Linked DNA regions of Homo sapiens. The protein of the gene in region 1 purifies or fractionates together with the protein of each later gene. This does not show direct contact. Each region holds a gene or a part of one and is shown in the gene's direction. Other genes may lie near its edges.

Region 1 (4,877 bases):
ACACTGCTAGAGCCAGAAGATGCGAGGCCCACAGCGGATGCAAATCCTGTCCTCACAAAGCTTGTACCCTGTTGGGGGAAGACTTAAGTGGGGAGCAGGTTTGGGGTGGGAAGTCAGTTGGATTCTCTGGGGGTGAGTACACTGCTGTGCACATGTGCATCTGCAGAAGCGTCTGTGAGATGGGATGCTGAAGACATGGGATTGGGGGTCCCACTCCAGACCTTAATGTGGTCGGAATGTGGGTGTTTTGTCCCCCCTTTCTCACCTGCCAGGTCTTGTGGGGAGGGGATCAGCCTCCCACCTGGGTGAAGCTGGGAGAGGGCCAGACTGGTCCATGGCCCCAGCTTGGATCTTTGCACACAATTTCTCCCCTGAGCCTCAGGCTCCTTTTTGTAAATTGGGTGTAGTGTGTCCCCCTTGGAGAGTTGCCCTGAGGGCCGAGGGACGAGGTCAGAGTGGAGTGGGTGGTAACATGAGCAGCAGGGGTCACAGGAGTGGGGGCGGAGGCCACAGCCAATGTCTCCTGAGTGCTTGGGCAGGCACTGTTGAAGCCTCATGATTTATGTCCATTCTTCCTCCACACGGTGTCCACACACCCATTTCACCATGAGGAAGCAGGCACAGATGCCCCCCGCCTGAGCTCACACAGCCAGGGGGAGGAGGGCTGGGTTCCAAAACAAGTCTAGATGGGCTCTGGGGTCCAGCTCACAGGCCCACTCAGAGTGGGTGTCAGGCGACTGTTGGTCAATTCCTTCCTTATCTGGTGGCCCCATCAGCCTGGAGAGGAAGGCTCTTCCTGAATCACTCAGTGAGGCTTCCATGCCCCTCTTTTCCTTTTATCAGCTCGGAGCCCAAGATCCTCTTCTCCTACAAATGCCAAGTGGACGAGACAGAGGAGCCAGATGTACACCTACCCCAGCCCTACGCTGTGGCCCGGCGGGAGGGCCTGGAGGCTGCAGGGGCTGCTGGGGCCTCAGCTGCCAGCTACTCGAGCACGCAGTTCGACTCTGCCGGCGGGGTGGCCTACCTGGATGACATCGCTTCCATGCCCTGCCACACTGGCAGCATCAACAGCACAGACAGCGAGCGCTGGAAGGCCATCAATGCCTGAGGGCAGCTGCCAGGGCCTGTGGAGGACAGGCCAGAGAGGAGGCCAGCAGGCCCAGAGTCCCCAGGGGAGGAGGACCAGGTCAAGGGACGTTCTGTGGGCAGTAGCCCTGTGTGGCCCTGTTCCCACCATGAGTCTGGAGGCCCCACCTCCCTGGGGCTCCCAATCCCCTTTGCCATCTCTGCTCTCACTGGGGACCCTCCTCCCCTTCCCACCTGCTCTCATACTGCTCAGTGACATGGCCCAGGCTTTCCTTCCAGGGCCATGCTTGGCAAGGTTGGCTGAGGGCACCCTCCTTCTCTGCACCCTTGGCACGAGGGCAGGGCTGGCTCTCCCAATGCCTCCATCCCATCCCCATGGTGCTTTGGCCTCCTCAAAGCATCCACCATGGTGGATGGACTGAAGTGTGTATATTTTCTTGATCTATTTTTTAATAAAAAGGAAAAGGAGCAGAAGGTGCTAATGTGGAGGTTTTGCAGGAATACTGGGGCTGGTTCCTTTCAGGAGCCTGAGGGCTGGGTGAGGGGCTGGGAGGCTCAGGGGGCCTCTGCTCAACCAAGGAGCAGTCCCCAGTGCCCAAGCCCTGGGCTGGCTGCTGGGGAGGTGAAGAGAAACAGGATCCCAGCTGCCGCTGCCCCTGCCCCTGGGCCCATCTGAGTAGGGGGGACAGACATGGAGAGAGAGGAGAACTATGTTTTGTGAGCCAGCCCCTCTCCCTTTGTCAGACACACACTGTTGTCTTGGGCAGCCGGTTCTCTCTGCTCAGCTCCATTAAAACGCAGAATGGACTTACTATTGCCATCTGTAAAATGCGGAGAAGACCCATCCTGCAGGGCCTTTTGTAAGGATTGGAAAACACTAAGCACGAGTGGCTGGCGTACAGTAATGAACGATAAGGATAGCTCTTATTTTTAGCCTCAAGAATAGTGCTTGGCACATAGTAGGCCCCCAGCAGACAGGACTCGGGGACTGATGTTTGTCATAAGGATGGGTGTGGTTGGCTGAAAATGGGAGTAAATCAGAGCAAAGCACTGGGATCATAAGGCATGAGTAGGGGAGAGGGGCCCACTTGTCCCTGCCACTGCCCTTGTACCTGAGTTCGGCTTTGAGCTTTTTGGCAGCCAGAGTGAAAGGGAGTTGCTGCCAGTTATGTAATCCCCAGAGTTGGAGAGGAGGAGCCCATCCAGGACACAGCCAACTGCATGCTTCAGAGCCTGGGGAGGTCTCAGCCCTGGCTGTGGGGACCCTGAGGATCAGGCTGTTGCCCGCCTCCGCGATCAGCCTTTTTTTTTTAGGGGGGAATGGGGTGCCGAGGGCACAAGCTCCAACACAGCTCATGTCTGTGGGGCCAATGTGTCAGGCTCCCTGGGAGGGCCTGGAGGGTTGATAGCGGACAGGGCCAACAGTACGGCCAGTGAGCTGGACTCCTGGGCTGCAGGGGGTACTGCAGGGTGCCCCTGAATGGCATACTTTATCGGGGCCTCTCAGCTCATGTAAAAGCCTGGTAATCAGGGAAGGCAAGCTCACGGCATTCTGAGTGAGCGGGGTAAGGGTTGGGGCCAGCAGGGATTTGACCATCAGATCCACATGCAGTCCAAGATGGCACAGTGTCAGCCGAAGTTTGCTGGCTGCAGTGAATGAGCAGAGAGGCATCAACAGAAGAAAAGAGACCATTTTTATAATTTTTAAGTTTGTTTTTTAAAAATAGGTCATATATGTACATGGCAAGAAAAAAAAAGGTTCATGCAGTACAGGAGGGTATTTGGTGAACGATAAATCTCCCTGTGTGGCACTGAATTCCTCTGTCCCCCTCCTGAAGCACCCAGGGTCTCCATAACCTTCCAGAGCCATCCTGTGTTCACACCAACGGATGTGTATATCATCCCTCTTTCTGTAATGCTAATGTCCTGTAGCTCACTCCAATGGATCTTGGAGATCATTCCATGTCAAGTGGAGGACTGCTTCACCCCTGCAGCTACATATATATGGATATATGGCAATTTATAAACCACTTCCCTTTTGTTTCTGAAAAATTTTGCAACAACAAACAAGGCAACATCAACAATCCTTATAAATTTGCTTTTGGTAACTCATGCAAGTAGAATTGCTGGAGCACACAGTCTTAATTAGTTTTAATTACTCTTATTAGTCTTCTGCAGAGATCAATAGTTGTCCTCCAATATATGTTGTTTTTCTCCATTGGAAGAGAATCCCTGATTTTTCGCTAGATACACAGCTGTCTAGAATAAAGACTGCATTTTCTAGCCTTCCTTGCAGGTGGGTTCTGGCCAATGGATGTAAGTATGCATGCAACTTCCTTAGAGATAAGAGGTGGCCCTTCTTTCCTGCTGACTGGAATGTGCTTATAATGGCTGGAGTGATAGCAGCCATCTTGAACCATAGGGTAATCTGGGGAATGGAAGTTTCTCATTGCAGTGCGACAGGATAGAGAGAGCCGGTGTCATGGACACTGTAGTGCATCTGTAACGACCTCGGACGTCCTACCTTCAGATGACTTTTGGAACGTATGAGAGAAATGAGTGGCTATCTTGTTCAAACCACTTTTGATGTTTCTCTTACAGTTGAACCTAATCTGAACCAAAACACCCATTCCAAGAGGCTATGCCAGCTTTCATTCCCACCGGCACATCCTCACTGACGTGGTATGCCAGTCACATTTTCAGTCTTTCTGAAGAGCCCTGCTCAGACCACGTCTGTGTGGTGTCTGGGTGCGAACAGGCATTAGGCAGAGGAGCGGCTGGATGCGAGGTTTCTGGAGTCTTAACGTGGTGACAGAGTTCACTGTATGTGGCCAAAGTCTAATCTCACCTTCCCACTGCTGCTGCACATGGACTGTGGACCTTGGGCAGGTCACAGCTTCTCCTTGATCCTCAGTTTCTTCACTAGTGGTACAGGGTAGCAGGTGACTGGTTGCCACTGGTATCCATTTTTCCTCCCTCAGTAACTGCACCCTCATGTTTGTGGGTCAGTGAAGCACCCACCTTAGAGGTGTCACCATTGAGAATTTAGGGAAGAAGACCTTGGACACAGGGTCCTCAGTTGCTGCCAAGCTCAGTGCCAGCCACATGGCCCTGAAGCAGCAGAGCTCTGAGACCTGCAGGTCCACCCACCCAGAGCACTGGAGCATGGTGATATAACGGGTGAACGCATGGCCAGTGATGTATGGGTTTGCCAGGGCTGCCATAACAAAGTACTATAGATGGGGGCCTTCAACAACAGGGGTTTATTTTCTTACAGTTCTGGAGGCTGGAATTCCAAGATCAAGGTGTCCACTGTTGGTTTCCTCTGAGGCCCCTCTCCTGGGTTTGCAGTCAGCCGTCCCCTTTCTGCCTTCTTGAGTGGTCTTCCTTCTGTGTGTGGGGTCCCTGCTGTCTCTCTGGGTCCGAATTTCCTCTCTTTATATGGACACCAGTCAGATTAGATTAGGACTCCCAATGAATGGCCTCTTTTCACCTTAGTCACCTCTGTAAAGGCCAAATCTCCAAATGCAGTCCCCTGCAGAGGTGCCTGGGGCTGGGGCTTCAGTGCATGAGTGTTGGGGGACTGACTTCAGCCATAACAAATGGCATTAGAGCCTCTCTCCCTCTGACCTCCTGACACTGTGCAAGAGCCTGAGACCTTACCAGATCCACGGAATAGGCAGAAAAGCCCTAAGCATAACTGAGGTTAAGTCTTCCTCCTGCTCAGCAGAATGGGGCCATGGTGGAAACTCAGCAACATTCTAGAAAATTCCTGGTGTGCTGTGGTG
Region 2 (7,315 bases), on another chromosome or scaffold:
CCTTGGCTCTCTAGGTAGGTCCTACTGTTACTATCCCCAAGGACGCTGGGGCACAGACAGGTGGAGCGACGTACTGAGGTTGCCCACTGCAGGGGCGACTGTCTCCAACACTACCTCAGGCGACTAGAAACCCCCCCCCCCCACCACCACCATCAACACCAGCTGCTGAGGACTGGAGGCTACTGGGTGGCCAGGCAGAGGCTTGGACCTCCTGGAACCGCCATGGTGGCAGTGGGACCCACAGAAGGGGCCAGGTGTATGAGGCTGGAGACTCCACAGCACTTGGTCAGATGGGGACAGGAGGAGAGGGGCTCGCTCTGCCTTGGGTCTAGGGGGCGGCTGGAGGAGAGGAGACAGGCTGGGGAGTCAGCGCAGTGTTGGGGCTCACACAAGGGGGAGCCCAGGGGAGTCAGGAGCACCACAAACAAGGCTCCAGGAGGACAGATGGTGGGAGCACGGCCAGCCTGGGTGGGGACATAAAGGGGTGGCAGGGGGAGGTGGCCAGGGAAGAATCTACATGGCAAGGACTTCCCGGCCCCAGGCCTGGGCTACGCCTCCATGGTGATCGTCTTCTACTGCAACACCTACTACATCATGGTGCTGGCCTGGGGCTTCTATTACCTGGTCAAGTCCTTTACCACCACGCTGCCCTGGGCCACATGTGGCCACACCTGGAACACTCCCGACTGCGTGGAGATCTTCCGCCATGAAGACTGTGCCAATGCCAGCCTGGCCAACCTCACCTGTGACCAGCTTGCTGACCGCCGGTCCCCTGTCATCGAGTTCTGGGAGTGAGTCCGGCACCTCTGGGCCAAGCCCATCCCATCCCCCAGGTCTCCCTCATGTTGCCCGGCTCCAGGGGAGTGGCCCTGAGGGGGCACCAGGGTGTTGCCTGGCAGTCCATCCTGGACCCTGCCTGCCCTTGCCTGTCCTCGGAGAGTCCTGGGGCCAGCCTCGCTCCTGGGTTCGGCAGCCGATCACTGTCCTGGTCACTCCCCCCTGATGGGGGAGCTGGGGCTGCATGTGAGGTGGGATGGGAGTGGCCTCCCAATGGCCAGGGGATCGTGGGCTCCAGGCCCAGCCCAATTGGACAAGAGGGACCCGCTGAACCCTGGGCTGTGGGAGAGAAGGGAGCCACAACTCCTGGGGGTGGACCCTGTGGCTCCATCCTCTGCTGGCACAGGCCTCATGGGACCTCCCTCCCTCCCCTAGGAACAAAGTCTTGAGGCTGTCTGGGGGACTGGAGGTGCCAGGGGCCCTCAACTGGGAGGTGACCCTTTGTCTGCTGGCCTGCTGGGTGCTGGTCTACTTCTGTGTCTGGAAGGGGGTCAAATCCACGGGAAAGGTACCACTAGAGGCATGCAGCGGGGAGGGTGGCTCAGCCCTGGGAGCCGGATGTCTGTGCCAGGCACACCTGTGGCAACGGGAGGTGACCAGACAGAGTCTAGCCCTAAGGAAGGGGGAGGTACTGAAAGCCAAGCAATGCTCCCCACCCTGCAAATCCAGGGCCCAGCAGCCTTTGCTCCTGGGGATAGAGGCCCTGGCAGGCACTGTCCCTTCCCTGTGCCCATCACCCCCACTGGTGCCCTCCTGCCAGTCTCTGACTCTTGTGACAGTCTGGTGGACCTGGTCTGGCCATCTGTTACCTATCTTGCCTTGGGGACCCAGAGCAGAGTCTGGCCACATCCCTTGGGGGCTCCTGGTCAGGCTGGGGAGTCACCTGAACAAAGAAGACAGTGTCTAGAGCTGTGGGACATGGCCAGCTCCCTGGGGGACAAGGTCCCCAGAGCAGCATGTGGGAAGAGGGGGCAGACAGTGTGGCAGCTGCATCTCGCCTGCCTCTGCCTGGCCCAGTTCCACTCTCCACCTGCTCAACCCCCACCTCTCTCCAGAAGAGGAGGGGGACCCGACCCGGATCCAATATCCCGCTCCCTGCCTGGGCCTCCCACACCTGCACTGCCCACACACTCATACAGCTCTCACTCCCCACGTGCTCCACGCCTCCTGTCCCCACTGAGGAGAGCTCCCAGAGGCTCGCCTGCTCCCCACCGACACGCGTCCCTGCAGACAAACGAGGCGCCCAGGGAGCTTCCCCACTGCACTTGGCCAGGGCTGCCGGGGCGCAGCCTTGCCCCTAGCTTCCTCTGGCGGGAGCCATGGCTCGGAGGACAATGGGGACCTCTGAACATACCTGCCCGCAAGGGGGACCGGAGGCGCTGGGAGTGGGGGTGTGAGGGAGGTGGTGCCACAGCCTCCGCTGAGCAGCCTGGCCCCCCAGATCGTGTACTTCACTGCTACATTCCCCTACGTGGTCCTGGTCGTGCTGCTGGTGCGTGGAGTGCTGCTGCCTGGCGCCCTGGATGGCATCATTTACTATCTCAAGCCTGACTGGTCAAAGCTGGGGTCCCCTCAGGTGAGGTGGAGGTGGAGAGGCTGCAGCAGGGCGCTGCGGGGGAGCCCTGCAGGCCCCTCATGCCTGCGCTCTCCGGCCCTTCTCTAGGTGTGGATAGATGCGGGGACCCAGATTTTCTTTTCTTACGCCATTGGCCTGGGGGCCCTCACAGCCCTGGGCAGCTACAACCGCTTCAACAACAACTGCTACAAGTAAGCACCGCCGCCCTGCCACCCGTGCCCTGTCCTGCCCTGCCCCGCCCTGCCCAGCAGCCTAACCCATCCACTCTGGCCCCTCCACCCCTCAGGGACGCCATCATCCTGGCTCTCATCAACAGTGGGACCAGCTTCTTTGCTGGCTTCGTGGTCTTCTCCATCCTGGGCTTCATGGCTGCAGAGCAGGGCGTGCACATCTCCAAGGTGGCAGAGTCAGGTAGGGCCCTACCCCCAGCCCCGCCTCCAGAGCAGCGAGTGCTACCCAGATGCATGATGTACAGGAACATGCAATAGAAATGCTGAAAAGTGACGAGGATTCAAACGGAACTTGTCAGATTGTGGGCCTGTGGGGGCAGGTCCTGGGATTTGTCAATGTTGACAGAGAAAGGACCTCCCAGCCCCTGCCGCACGACCCAGGGTTGACAGCGCCTCTGAGGCAGGCGTGGGCATGGGCGCGAGTGTTGCAGGCAGGGCTCAGGGTGCGCACAGGGCAGGACATCGGCTACAAGGTCTAGAGCCTGCACCTTTCCCACAGGGCCGGGCCTGGCCTTCATCGCCTACCCGCGGGCTGTCACGCTGATGCCAGTGGCCCCACTCTGGGCTGCCCTGTTCTTCTTCATGCTGTTGCTGCTTGGTCTCGACAGCCAGGTTTGCATGGGGCTCTGGGACAGGGAGCCAGGAGGGGGGCGGAGGGAGGGCTGCAGGCAAGGAAAGGGGTGGAGGGCGGTGCGGGGCTCGGCCTGAGCTGCCCTGGCCACAGTTTGTAGGTGTGGAGGGCTTCATCACCGGCCTCCTCGACCTCCTCCCGGCCTCCTACTACTTCCGTTTCCAAAGGGAGATCTCTGTGGCCCTCTGTTGTGCCCTCTGCTTTGTCATCGATCTCTCCATGGTGACTGATGTGAGTGGGGTGGGGGGTCTGCCTGTGACCTCTGGTGGCCGTCTGCCATCCTCCCTGACTGGGCTCTGTCCCCCAGGGCGGGATGTACGTCTTCCAGCTGTTTGACTACTACTCGGCCAGCGGCACCACCCTGCTCTGGCAGGCCTTTTGGGAGTGCGTGGTGGTGGCCTGGGTGTACGGTAGGTCATGGCTGAGGGCTGGGCTGGGGGATGGTGGCGGGGAAGGCAGGTCTCCAGCTTGGCCCTCCCGCCTCACCTCGCCGCAGGAGCTGACCGCTTCATGGACGACATTGCCTGTATGATCGGGTACCGACCTTGCCCCTGGATGAAATGGTGCTGGTCCTTCTTCACCCCGCTGGTCTGCATGGTAAGGGCTGGGGGAGGTGGGGCAGGGCGGGGGGCGAGGCAGGGCGGGGTAGGGGCCCCATTAACCGCAGCATTCTGGTCCGTAGGGCATCTTCATCTTCAACGTTGTGTACTACGAGCCGCTGGTCTACAACAACACCTACGTGTACCCGTGGTGGGGTGAGGCCATGGGCTGGGCCTTCGCCCTGTCCTCCATGCTGTGCGTGCCGCTGCACCTCCTGGGCTGCCTCCTCAGGGCCAAGGGCACCATGGCTGAGGTAAGGCTCCCGCCCGGCCCGCCCTCCCCTCCCCTGCTGTGAACATTCAACCCAGCCTGCTTCCTAGCCAGGGAGTGGCCCCGACTAGGGTGGCAGGCAGTGGGAACCGGAGAGAGGCAGAGGAAGTCACCGTGGGGACGAGCAGGTGACCCTGGGGGCTTCAGCATGTCCTCCTCTCCTGCAGCGCTGGCAGCACCTGACCCAGCCCATCTGGGGCCTCCACCACTTGGAGTACCGAGCTCAGGACGCAGATGTCAGGGGCCTGACCACCCTGACCCCAGTGTCCGAGAGCAGCAAGGTCGTCGTGGTGGAGAGTGTCATGTGACAACTCAGCTCACATCACCAGCTCACCTCTGGTAGCCATAGCAGCCCCTGCTTCAGCCCCACCGCACCCCTCCAGGGGGCCTGCCTTTCCCTGACACTTTTGGGGTCTGCCTGGGGGAGGAGGGGAGAAAGCACCATGAGTGCTCACTAAAACAACTTTTTCCATTTTTAATAAAACGCCAAAAATATCACAACCCACCAAAAATAGATGCCTCTCCCCCTCCAGCCCTAGCCGAGCTGGTCCTAGGCCCCGCCTAGTGCCCCACCCCCACCCACAGTGCTGCACTCCTCCTGCCCCTGCCACGCCCACCCCCTGCCCACCTCTCCAGGCTCTGCTCTGCAGCACACCCGTGGGTGACCCCTCACCCCAGAAGCAGCAGTGGCAGCTTGGGAAATGTGAGGAAGGGAAGGAGGGAGAGACGGGAGGGAGGAGAGAGAGGAGAAGGGAGGCAGGGGAGGGGCAGCAGAACCAAGGCAAATATTTCAGCTGGGCTATACCCCTCTCCCCATCCCTGTTATAGAAGCTTAGAGAGCCAGCCAGCAATGGAACCTTCTGGTTCCTGCGCCAATCGCCACCAGTATCAATTGTGTGAGCTTGGGTGCGAGTGCACGCGTGCGTGAGTACGGAGAGTATATATAGATCTCTATCTCTTAGCAAAGGTGAATGCCAGATGTAAATGGCGCCTCTGGGCAAAGGAGGCTTGTATTTTGCACATTTTATAAAAACTTGAGAGAATGAGATTTCTGCTTGTATATTTCTAAAAAGAGGAAGGAGCCCAAACCATCCTCTCCTTACCACTCCCATCCCTGTGAGCCCTACCTTACCCCTCTGCCCCTAGCCAAGGAGTGTGAATTTATAGATCTAACTTTCATAGGCAAAACAAAAGCTTCGAGCTGTTGCGTGTGTGAGTCTGTTGTGTGGATGTGCGTGTGTGGTCCCCAGCCCCAGACTGGATTGGAAAAGTGCATGGTGGGGGCCTCGGGGCTGTCCCCACGCTGTCCCTTTGCCACAAGTCTGTGGGGCAAGAGGCTGCAATATTCCGTCCTGGGTGTCTGGGCTGCTAACCTGGCCTGCTCAGGCTTCCCACCCTGTGCGGGGCACACCCCCAGGAAGGGACCCTGGACACGGCTCCCACGTCCAGGCTTAAGGTGGATGCACTTCCCGCACCTCCAGTCTTCTGTGTAGCAGCTTTAACCCACGTTTGTCTGTCACGTCCAGTCCCGAGACGGCTGAGTGACCCCAAGAAAGGCTTCCCCGACACCCAGACAGAGGCTGCAGGGCTGGGGCTGGGTGAGGGTGGCGGGCCTGCGGGGACATTCTACTGTGCTAAAAAGCCACTGCAGACATAGCAATAAAAACATGTCATTTTCCAAAGCAGGCTCCTGCTTCCGCCTCTGCTGCTCTAAGGAAGGGGTCGGGGTACAGGAGGCAGGGGGAACCTCCTCCAGCTGGAGCTGCTGCCGTGAGCAAGGCTCTGCTCTGGAGGCCTCTGCGGCCGGCACCCTTCTGGGGACTGGGAAGGGGGCAGGGAAGGCAGCAGCCCAGGGGAAGGCCTTGTCCCCCTGGAGCCGAGGCAGTTGGGGAGAGCAGGACGAGAGTGAGCTGGAGAGCAGCCACACCCGCGGGGAAGGGTGGGCGTAAAGCCATGGGTGCTGAAATTTTCAAAATGTTACCCCAAGAATTTGTCACTGAACAGGTGCCTTGTGTCACTTGGGCCAGGCTGGTAGCAGCAGAGGGGATAACTCTGCATCAGGGATCAATTTTGAAGGTGGAGCCAATAGGGGTTGTGCATGACCAGGATGCAGGGCTCAAAGAGGAGTTAAGGACAACAGATTTGGCCTGAGCAAGAGGAAAGATGGAGCTGCCAGGTCCTGCAATGGGGAGGCAAGGAGAGAATGGTCTGGAGTCAGCCTTGGGTGTGTCATGCAGGAAGTGTCATCCAAGTGGAGATGTCTAGTTGGCAGGTGGACACAGGAGTTCCAGAAAGTACTGGAGATGGAACTGTGCAAGTTCTTACCACATAGAGATGACACTGAAAGCCCTGAGCCTGAGTGAGCTCACAGGGACGCCGCAAGCCCCGGAACACAATGAGAGGGGCAGAGCGAAGACGTGGCAGTGATAGGGGAGGACGCCTGAGAGTTCCTGGTGGGGTCCTGCAACCTGAGCCAGTGAGGACCCCTCACAGGTCAGGGAGGAGCAGTGGCTGGCTCCATCTGTCCAGTGCTGCTGCTGGTGAAGGACAGTGACCTGCAAATGCTCACTGAGTCTGGCAAGGGTCACGGGGGCCTGGCGAGGGTGGCTTGCATGAGCGGGTGCGTGTGAAAGGCTGGGTGGTGTGCGACTGAGAAAAGGAGTGGCGGCAGCGCAGTGTCATCTGCAGACGAAGGGAGAGACAACAACGTAGTTCACCCAGACAAGGAAATATGAGCCAGCCTGGAAAGGGAAGGCATTCCAACACACGACACAACATGGCTGACCCTGGAGGGCATTTCTGTGAAATGAGCCATCATAAAGGGATACTTGCTATAGGGTTCTGCTCCTGTGAGAGAGACAGGGCCTTACATGAGAGGAGGGAGATCCACAGAGACAGAGGGCAAGGGTGGGTGCCAGGGGCTGGGGACAGGGTGGGGAGTGTTGAGTGGGGACAGAGTGTCAGTTTGAGAAAATAAATTCTAGAGGTGGATGGAAGTGGTGGCTGCGCAACACTGTGACTGCACTTAATGCCACTGAATTGCACATTTAACGATGGTGAAAATGGCTCATTACATATACACTGATGACACTATATATATGTATGATATATATGCGTTTTACCATGAGAAGAGGTGGAGAGGAATTGGAGACACTGAGTACAGACAGGTCC
Region 3 (8,152 bases), on another chromosome or scaffold:
TAAGTGTAGTGCTAAAGGCACTTGCCAATAGGTTGATAGTGATCTTTCACAAAATTAGTTTGCTCAACAAAATTCTATTTATCCTTCTAGAAATTGGTAAGATCTCATTTTATGGCCCATGCAGTCCAGAGATTTTTACATTTCCCTTTAAATTATCCATAGCAAAGTTTAGTGTAAACAAACCTTTTCCTTCTTTCATTTAAAGTACATTATTTTCCTGTCATGTGCAAGACACACTGCGAATGGAGAAGGATTGGGGCTATGCTCTTTGGGGATATACCAAATGACTATGACAAGTATTTGGGGGCTCAGAGGAGTTGATAGTCTTCAGTTGGAAAACAGATTACTTACTCAAATGTTACTAGGGAGAAGATTTATTCAGCTACTACTAGGGCAAACGTCTAGGGTGGGAGAGGAAGGGGAGGAGAGAGATGGCTTATTGCTGAACATGCATATGTATTTAAGGGACTATGTAAAGGACTGATTTTTGGCATTTGGTGGACATTCAGAATCCTTGAGTGTATGTTTTTGCAGTGTTTGAGAAAAAGAATTTAGAGATGAACTATGTATACTCCAGCTGTCACAAATTTTAATTCTATTATTAGGTCACAATTACCTTTCATTTTTCTAATAGATATCTCTACATCACACATTCCATTATCTTTTCCTGACCTCCCAAATCCAAATAAACATTAAGGAGCTAAGAGTAAGAATGGAATGAAATTGCCTAAAATCTTTATCAACTGTGGTCAGATTACACCTTTGGCCTTTCTAAATGCCCTTCTGTGTGGATTGTCTTAAGATTCTTCTTGTTCTGGAATACAGTGGAGGTCTTTAACCATCTTCTTTTCATCTGCAAACCCTCATGTTTGTTTTCTCTGCATGGGACCCAGGACTTCTTACCTGGGGTCACCACTATCTTCCTCATGATTAAAAATTAAAATTAGGACATGCTGGCACCACATTAGTGAAATCCCTACTCTGCTCCCATGAGAGGTGTCAGCAGGTGGAGTAGGAGGAGAGCGTGCTTTATAAATGGAAATGGAGCTTTTGTAGCATCTATTCAATCTGACATGTTTCCAGTTTACCATTAAGTCTCTTCTCAGCATACTTTCCTCCCCTGTCATTTATCATTTACACATACAAATGACAATTTTCTATTATACCAATAAGTGCTGAGAATTAACATTTTAGCCTCTTTTTCCAGTTTTAGAAAAGATCCCAGAACACTGGGACCTATGTTTGCATATGGTAAAGAATACCATCTGTTTTGTTTTTTAATTACACTTTAACTTTTTTTTTAACGTCTTAACTTTTATTTAAGAAAACAGGCTAGTTATTATTGCACCTAGAAAACCACGAGGGGCCTAATGAGTACACTGATGACATATCTGTTGATATGTCATCTTATCTAAAACATAAAATTTTAGATTAAGAATTCTAGCCGGAAGTGACTTTAAAATGTTCTAAAATGAAGTTTTGCATTTTATGTTTTAGTAAATGTAAAAATTTTGAGATATTCAGAATGACACTTAAAATGTTCTCAAATGACAAAAAATGACACCATGTATTTCATGTTGTAGAAGTGGTCAAGGCAATGAGATCAAACCCAGAGGTTTTTGATTTTTGTTTTTTTCCTGAAGCCACTAGTGTTTTGGTATTGACTATCTATGACAGCAGGATAAGTGTGATATTCGATAAATGAATCTGTTTTCCAGGCTGAGGAGAAATAACATGTAAATTCTTGAAAGTCAATAGAGTGTAATGAAAAGCAAAAGCAAAAAAAAAAATTGTTGGGAATCAGGAGGTAGAAAGGTTTATTCAAGATTTTCCACAGAGTTCAGCTTAATAATGAGTTTCTGTACCTTTTTGGTTTTATAGTATACCTTATTTGGTTATAGTCTGTTCATCTGTCATATCTAGGGTTTGTTACTTTTCTACCTAGTTCCTTTACTTTCTGATGAGTTACAGTACTTAAGTATCTAATATGTGCCTAGTACCATGTTGGCAGGGCTTGTACATGTCATCTCATTTAATCATCAGCCTAGTCATTCAGCACCCTTAGAACAGGGGCTGGAACTGTGGCTCCAGCTCATCGCACTGAAGCAATGGTTCCCAAGTGCCAGTGTGCAGGTTGTTGTCCCTCCGTCATTACTCTTTTCCCAGTCTATGGGAAGGAATAGTAAATGGGCCTGTTGTAAAATTTTCAGAAAGTTAAAGATGTTATATTCCATTATTGTTTTCTTCCTTTGAAAAAAAAAGTTAAATGCTATTTGGTTCATAAAACAATAGTGATAGCAGAAAGCTTTTTTATATGTCCCACCTTGTCAGAGTAAAACAATTGCATGTCTTTGTTGGTTCTCTCCTTCTCCCCTTTTGAAACCTGTTTATAGATCTAAGAGCTTTACAACAGCTGGCTTAAAAAATACTGTTTCACATGAAATTGTCATGTGTGCATGCCCATTTTAAGAGTAAAGTTTTTAAAATAGGAGGGGAAGGAAGAGGGTTTTTTTAGATATTTAATATATATTTAGCAGTTGTTTAGGGTATAAATTTGATCTATTGGTAATGCAATTTTAAATGCTGCAGCTTCATTCTGACTGAGTTTTATCTTCATTGTTTTTTTTTTCTAACTTTTTTTAAGAGATGGCATCTCACTATGTTGCCCAGTCAGGCCTTGAACCTCTAGGCTCAAGCTATCCTTCCACCTCAGCCTCCAGAATAGCTGGGCCTACAGGCATGCACCACAGTATCAGCTTGCCTTTCATTGGCTTTTAACCTGTAAATATTTAATATAGCTTTTGGCAAGAAATATTCTTTAAGAAATTGTTTTTATTCCCTGGAAAGTTTTTCTTTTCCACTTTTCACTAACTAAAGCCATTGTTTCAGAATCACCTTGATTCGTTTTTGTTGGTCCTCTTCAATGCTGTAATGCTTTGCTTTACTTTTTCCTTAGTGATACAAATGAAGTTGACATACCACCTAACACTCGAGTTGGCACCAAACGCTATATGCCTCCAGAAGTGTTGGACGAGAGCTTGAACAGAAATCACTTCCAGTCTTACATCATGGCTGACATGTATAGTTTTGGCCTCATCCTTTGGGAGGTTGCTAGGAGATGTGTATCAGGAGGTAAGAAACAGTGCTGTCTTTGAAAAGCTACTATTGGAGCTACTATAAATCCTTTCTTTCTGATCAGAAATCAAAGTTATCATACTGTCTATAAGATCTGGTTTTATTTTCCCCTTTATTTCTGTTGATGCAGTCATAGTGCTTCCAGGAAATTATATTCGACATCCTAGAATAATCTTTGACTGCTTCCTTCCTCCAGCTGCCACTAGACACACTGTCAGCCTACCCTGCTTTTTCAAGCATCACTGTTTTCTGCTCTGTGTATTGTCTTATTTCTGTCTTGGGTTCTTCCTCCAGCAGTTGCTCGATGAAATCAAACCCCCTTTTCTGTCCCTGCCAGTTTATTCTCACCTAGCTGCTGGGCCCCATCCCCAACTCCATTCCCTGGGATTTCCTCTGCAGAGATGACAGTAGGCCATAAATGTGGGGTCGGACACCCATTTCTTACCTGCTGTATTTTTTATAAAACTTCCCCATAAAGCAATTTGAAAACATCAGTTTTTTATCAAAAGGAAATTAAAGTATCAGAGTATTATTTTTTTATATTGTTTTTTCTACACATATGAGGATTCCCTAGTAAAAACAATTATAATGAACAAGAAGACATATTTAAATATTCAGAAGTATTATTACTTGTACTATTTTGATTGCTCTACAGTCTGTCTTCGAGTAAATTCTGACACCTTTTAGGCAAGGAGCTGAATCTTTGGCTTTTCTGTATCAACTCTTCTGTATGTTATTCCATGGTTGTGCTCATTAAAAAACCTTGATGCTGCTGCTGTTCCTCATAATGGCCAATTTAAGTCTATCTTCATGAAAACATGAGCTTGCTGAAGATTCTGAAAGTGCAGCATGCACTTAACTAGTACTGAGATGTGTTCTTGTTCCTGCTATTTATCTGTGATGCCTTGGACAGGTTATAAACTTTTCTTTGTTTCAGAGTCCTCTTAAAGATGAATTGAATTATTGTATCTGCTTCTGTGGTTGTATGGTTTCAATGTAAAGATAATGAGAACTGCCTGGCACATAAATAGCACTCAATACATGTTAGCTATTATTACTATTAATACTTTTCATTTTGGTTGGTAGAGCCATAACATCTTTAGGTTCATATTTAAATACAAAGAAGAAACAGTTAATCAACCTGCATTCACACTTCAATAGAAAGATCATTATCAGTGGCACAGTGCCTTCTAATAATCACTTTGGGAATTCTGAACCTGTTTTAAGAAATTTGAAATAGAACACATACTCTCTGAAGTGAGGGAACTATTTTGTGCAAAAGGAAAGTTAATGCAGGAAATTTTCTCTAACCAGATATTGAATAAATTTCTCATTCTAAGTGTAAAGAAGAAGTAACCAAAAAATTTAACAAATTGTCTATGCCTTGATTTCACGCATTATAAAGAGTAGATAAGCCTCACGTTTGCATTCCCAGCATTTTGGGAGTCCAAGCGGGGAGGATCAGTTGAAGCCAGGAGTTGAGGACTAGTCTGGGCAATAGATTGGGACCCAGTCTGTATTTAAAAAGAAAAAAAAAAAAAAAACAAGTAGACGAGCCTTTTAAAAAATAATATGCTTATACTTAATTAAGATAGCTTTATGGAAGTTGAAGGTGTAGAGAACAAGGTTATTTTTCTAATTATGTTTTCTTGAACATCTAAAACAAACAGGGCTACAGGAAGCCTATATTTGAAAGCCTGTGGGCCAAATACAGGAGAAATTATTCTCAGCTTAAAAACAAAGTAGCTTTATATAAACAGCAGGGTATTAATTGCTGTGCTAGGGTATTAATTTGCTTTGCTAGGGCTGTCTTTGGATGTGGAGATTTGCTATAATGTTGCCTTATTGTTAGAGGTGTTGGAGTCCCTGCTCTGTCCCATACCAACTGAATGGACTTGGGCAAGTTACTTAACCCCTGAGAGCCAAGTTTCCTCATCTGAGTAGTGTGGAGAATAATGTCATCTCAGAAACGCATTTGTGAGAATTTAATAAGATAATTTATATAGCATACCTGTTTCCACAACTGGGATAGAGGAAGCTCTCAATAAGCGATTTTATTTTTCCAGAGAGGCAAAGCACACAAAATTCTATTTTCTAACACTTTATGAAGATATTAGAAGTTTTTTGGGCTTATCTTTCTAGTCCAGGCCCTTCTGGGTGAAAGAGACACATCCAGATGTAGGCCTTTCCATCTTTTAAAGGAGAAGAAAGACAGAAAGGTTTGAGGTTTCAAACAGAGTTAAATGGCAGCTAACAGGAAATTTTGAAAACTTGATTACATGACATGGAGAAAAGAATAAGGCCTATTATTCAACAGTTAGATTTGAGTAATTCATAATTTTAAGTGGTGAGCTCTGCCTTCGTCTGTTGTAGTAGATACACCTACCCCACCCCATCCATCAGTCCATCCACCAGCGGAAAATAGGAGATGGGTTAAAGAGATGTGGGCTTTGCCTTCAGGCTGTTTCCAGGGCCATGGTCCTGAGAATGAGAAAGGGAGAAAGAACTGAAATGAAGCAGAGCACATCCTGCGTGTTAGGCCCTGTGCTTTTCTTATCTCATATGGAGGTAAAACACAGTGAAAGGAAATATTAACATAGATAATACATATAATTAGCTCTGTGGTCACAGCAGGGCACAGGACAAATGGTGAGTTGGAATGGTCTGAAAAAACTTCTGAACCTTCTGGTCCTTGATGATTTTATAACAGATTTGAGTTTACAAGAAAGAACATAACACAGACCCCAGATTTTGGCAGAGTAAGCCCCCAGTGAATTTAACGATGTGATATATAATCTGCCAACTTGACGGCATCATCTTTTTCAGATGAAAAGCAATGATATTTCTATAAAAGATGATTTAGGATAGGGAGGAGGGGTGCTCCCAAAAGATTGTTCAGAGCAGCAGCCTCTAATGTAATTATTATAAGGAGTTAATCTTAAGAAGGTGAAAAAGAAGATACTAGAAGCCTGCATTTTTAAAGGAGAAGAGGAAGAAGGTAGAAATTAAATACTAGGAACAATAAAATGAAAGTTTAGTGTGCATTTTTATGAAGATGCTATAGATTTATATTTCTTTTCTTTTAACAATACATATTTTTTCTAATAGTAATGTATTCCTTACTGAAAATTTGGATAAATATAGGAAAAAAATCAGATAATCCTTGAACCTAAAAAATTCATGGTTAATATTTTTGGGTGTCTGTAATTTTCTAAATTTTTAATGTGCAAAACCACATTCCTACAATTAAGCAGAAAAAATGTAAATCTGACATTTTGTTCAAGTAGGATACACTTCTGAATTTATTATGATATTCATAGTTTCATACTATAGTAATAGAAACAGTCACATGTAGTATGAGTTCAGGATATGTCTTGCAGATTTGCATTGAGATTTAATATAGATTTGTCTTTTAATTTGTTCTTCATAAAAATGGAAATAAATTTAAGATGCTTGTTTTACTTAGCTTTTGGAAATTAGGAAAGAAAGGCTTGAAGACCTATGACAATATTTTTCATTGGGCTTTGTATTCATTTTTTCTAAATTAGATTAAGTACCATTTGGGTAAATATTTTTCAAGATTTATTTTGCTATTTTTCTGCCTGAACTTGTCTGTAATACTGATAGCACTTTTCCTTTGAGAACTGTGTTAGACTTTTATTTCTACTTCACAGAAAATAATAATAATAATAATAATAGTAACAACATATTTTTAGGTATAGTGGAAGAATACCAGCTTCCTTATCATGACCTAGTGCCCAGTGACCCCTCTTATGAGGACATGAGGGAGATTGTGTGCATCAAGAAGTTACGCCCCTCATTCCCAAACCGGTGGAGCAGTGATGAGGTAAGGCTTGAGGTAACCATGTGGCTGTGACAGACTTCTAAATAGACTTTTCTTTTTTAGCTAAAATTCCACATATTGATTGTAGGAATTCTTCTTTTTTTGATGGTGATGGTGATGGCGCCTCATTGCAGTAATTTATATGAAGATAAGTGTAGTATGTTAAATTACTTGTTCTACTTTTCCAATTTTATTTTGCCACTTCCAGAATATATTGAGTGAGTTGGTCAGTGTTTAGCCTGCATAACAAATAACATTATTTTCTTTATTTATAATGTCTTGACATTTGCATAAAACCTATTATTTCTCTGTGTGTGTTTTTAAAGCATCATAATTTTTCTCTGTGACAAACCCATGTACAGCATTCTCCCATTTTGATTAGAGAAAAAAAGTAGGCATGTTAAAGTGATACAGGTTGACCTAGTTAAGATGCCTGACTGTGCTGGGTGTCTTTGTTAATAAGGATGACGAGATGTGATTTGAACAAATCCACCTTCAGCTTGGCTCTAAGGCTGTAGTGGTGAAACCTACATAGGTCTGGAAAGCAGCGGCTAGTAAGGAAGAAATGAGTCTTGCCTTTCCTGACTCCTCCTCCTGTTCCACATTCCTCTCCTTCCACCCTCGCAGCCTTCAAACTCACCATGTTCTAGAGTTCTCTGGCAGACTGGAATGTTCAAGATGAGTTTGAAGCACCACTGGAAAAAAAAACAGGCTCTTATCAAACGTACCAAAGCACTGCAAAGGGGGGACAGAGCACTATTTCTGAAGTGTAAAAGCCATTTAAATATAATCTCTGGGCCGGGCACTGTGGCTCACATCTGTAATCCCGGCACTTTGGCAGGCCGAGGCGGGTGGATCACTTGAGTCCAGAAGTTCGAGACCAGCCTGGCCAATATAGTGAAAACCCATCTCTATTAAAAAATACAAACAATAGCCTAGTGTGTTGGTGCACACCTGTATTCCCACCTACTCGGGAGATTGATGCACGAGAATTGCTTGAACCCGGAAGGCGGAGGTTGCAATGAGCCAGGATCATGACACTGCACTCGACAGACCGAGACCCTGTCTTAAAACAAATAAACAAACAACAACAAAAACAAAAACACCTTTGGCTCATTGGTTTTGTGTCTGGTTACTAAAATGCTAAATAATATATACGTTTTCCAGCAAGCT

What was found. The genes of interacting proteins can lie anywhere in the genome.
Region 2: the proteins of TPRA1 (region 1) and SLC6A8 purify together in Homo sapiens (affinity purification with mass spectrometry; 2 studies listed by BioGRID and IntAct, with this or other methods). This does not show direct contact.
Region 3: the proteins of TPRA1 (region 1) and BMPR1B purify together in Homo sapiens (affinity purification with mass spectrometry; 2 studies listed by BioGRID and IntAct, with this or other methods). This does not show direct contact.

Annotation. Positions count from the first base shown.
Region 1 is NC_000003.12:127,569,755-127,574,631, reverse strand, and holds the end of TPRA1 (transmembrane protein adipocyte-associated 1), read left to right. Parts: intron 1-843; coding exon 844-1,111; 3' UTR 1,112-3,400; downstream 3,401-4,877.
Region 2 is NC_000023.11:153,690,763-153,698,077, forward strand, and holds the end of SLC6A8 (sodium- and chloride-dependent creatine transporter 1), read left to right. Parts: intron 1-541; coding exon 542-791; intron 792-1,212; coding exon 1,213-1,345; intron 1,346-2,278; coding exon 2,279-2,413; intron 2,414-2,500; coding exon 2,501-2,604; intron 2,605-2,699; coding exon 2,700-2,824; intron 2,825-3,142; coding exon 3,143-3,255; intron 3,256-3,367; coding exon 3,368-3,505; intron 3,506-3,581; coding exon 3,582-3,684; intron 3,685-3,770; coding exon 3,771-3,871; intron 3,872-3,956; coding exon 3,957-4,127; intron 4,128-4,311; coding exon 4,312-4,452; 3' UTR 4,453-5,826; downstream 5,827-7,315. UniProt on the Homo sapiens protein: Creatine:sodium symporter which mediates the uptake of creatine. Plays an important role in supplying creatine to the brain via the blood-brain barrier.
Region 3 is NC_000004.12:95,145,792-95,153,943, forward strand, and holds part of BMPR1B (bone morphogenetic protein receptor type-1B isoform b precursor), read left to right. Parts: intron 1-2,956; coding exon 2,957-3,132; intron 3,133-6,851; coding exon 6,852-6,982; intron 6,983-8,152. UniProt on the Homo sapiens protein: On ligand binding, forms a receptor complex consisting of two type II and two type I transmembrane serine/threonine kinases.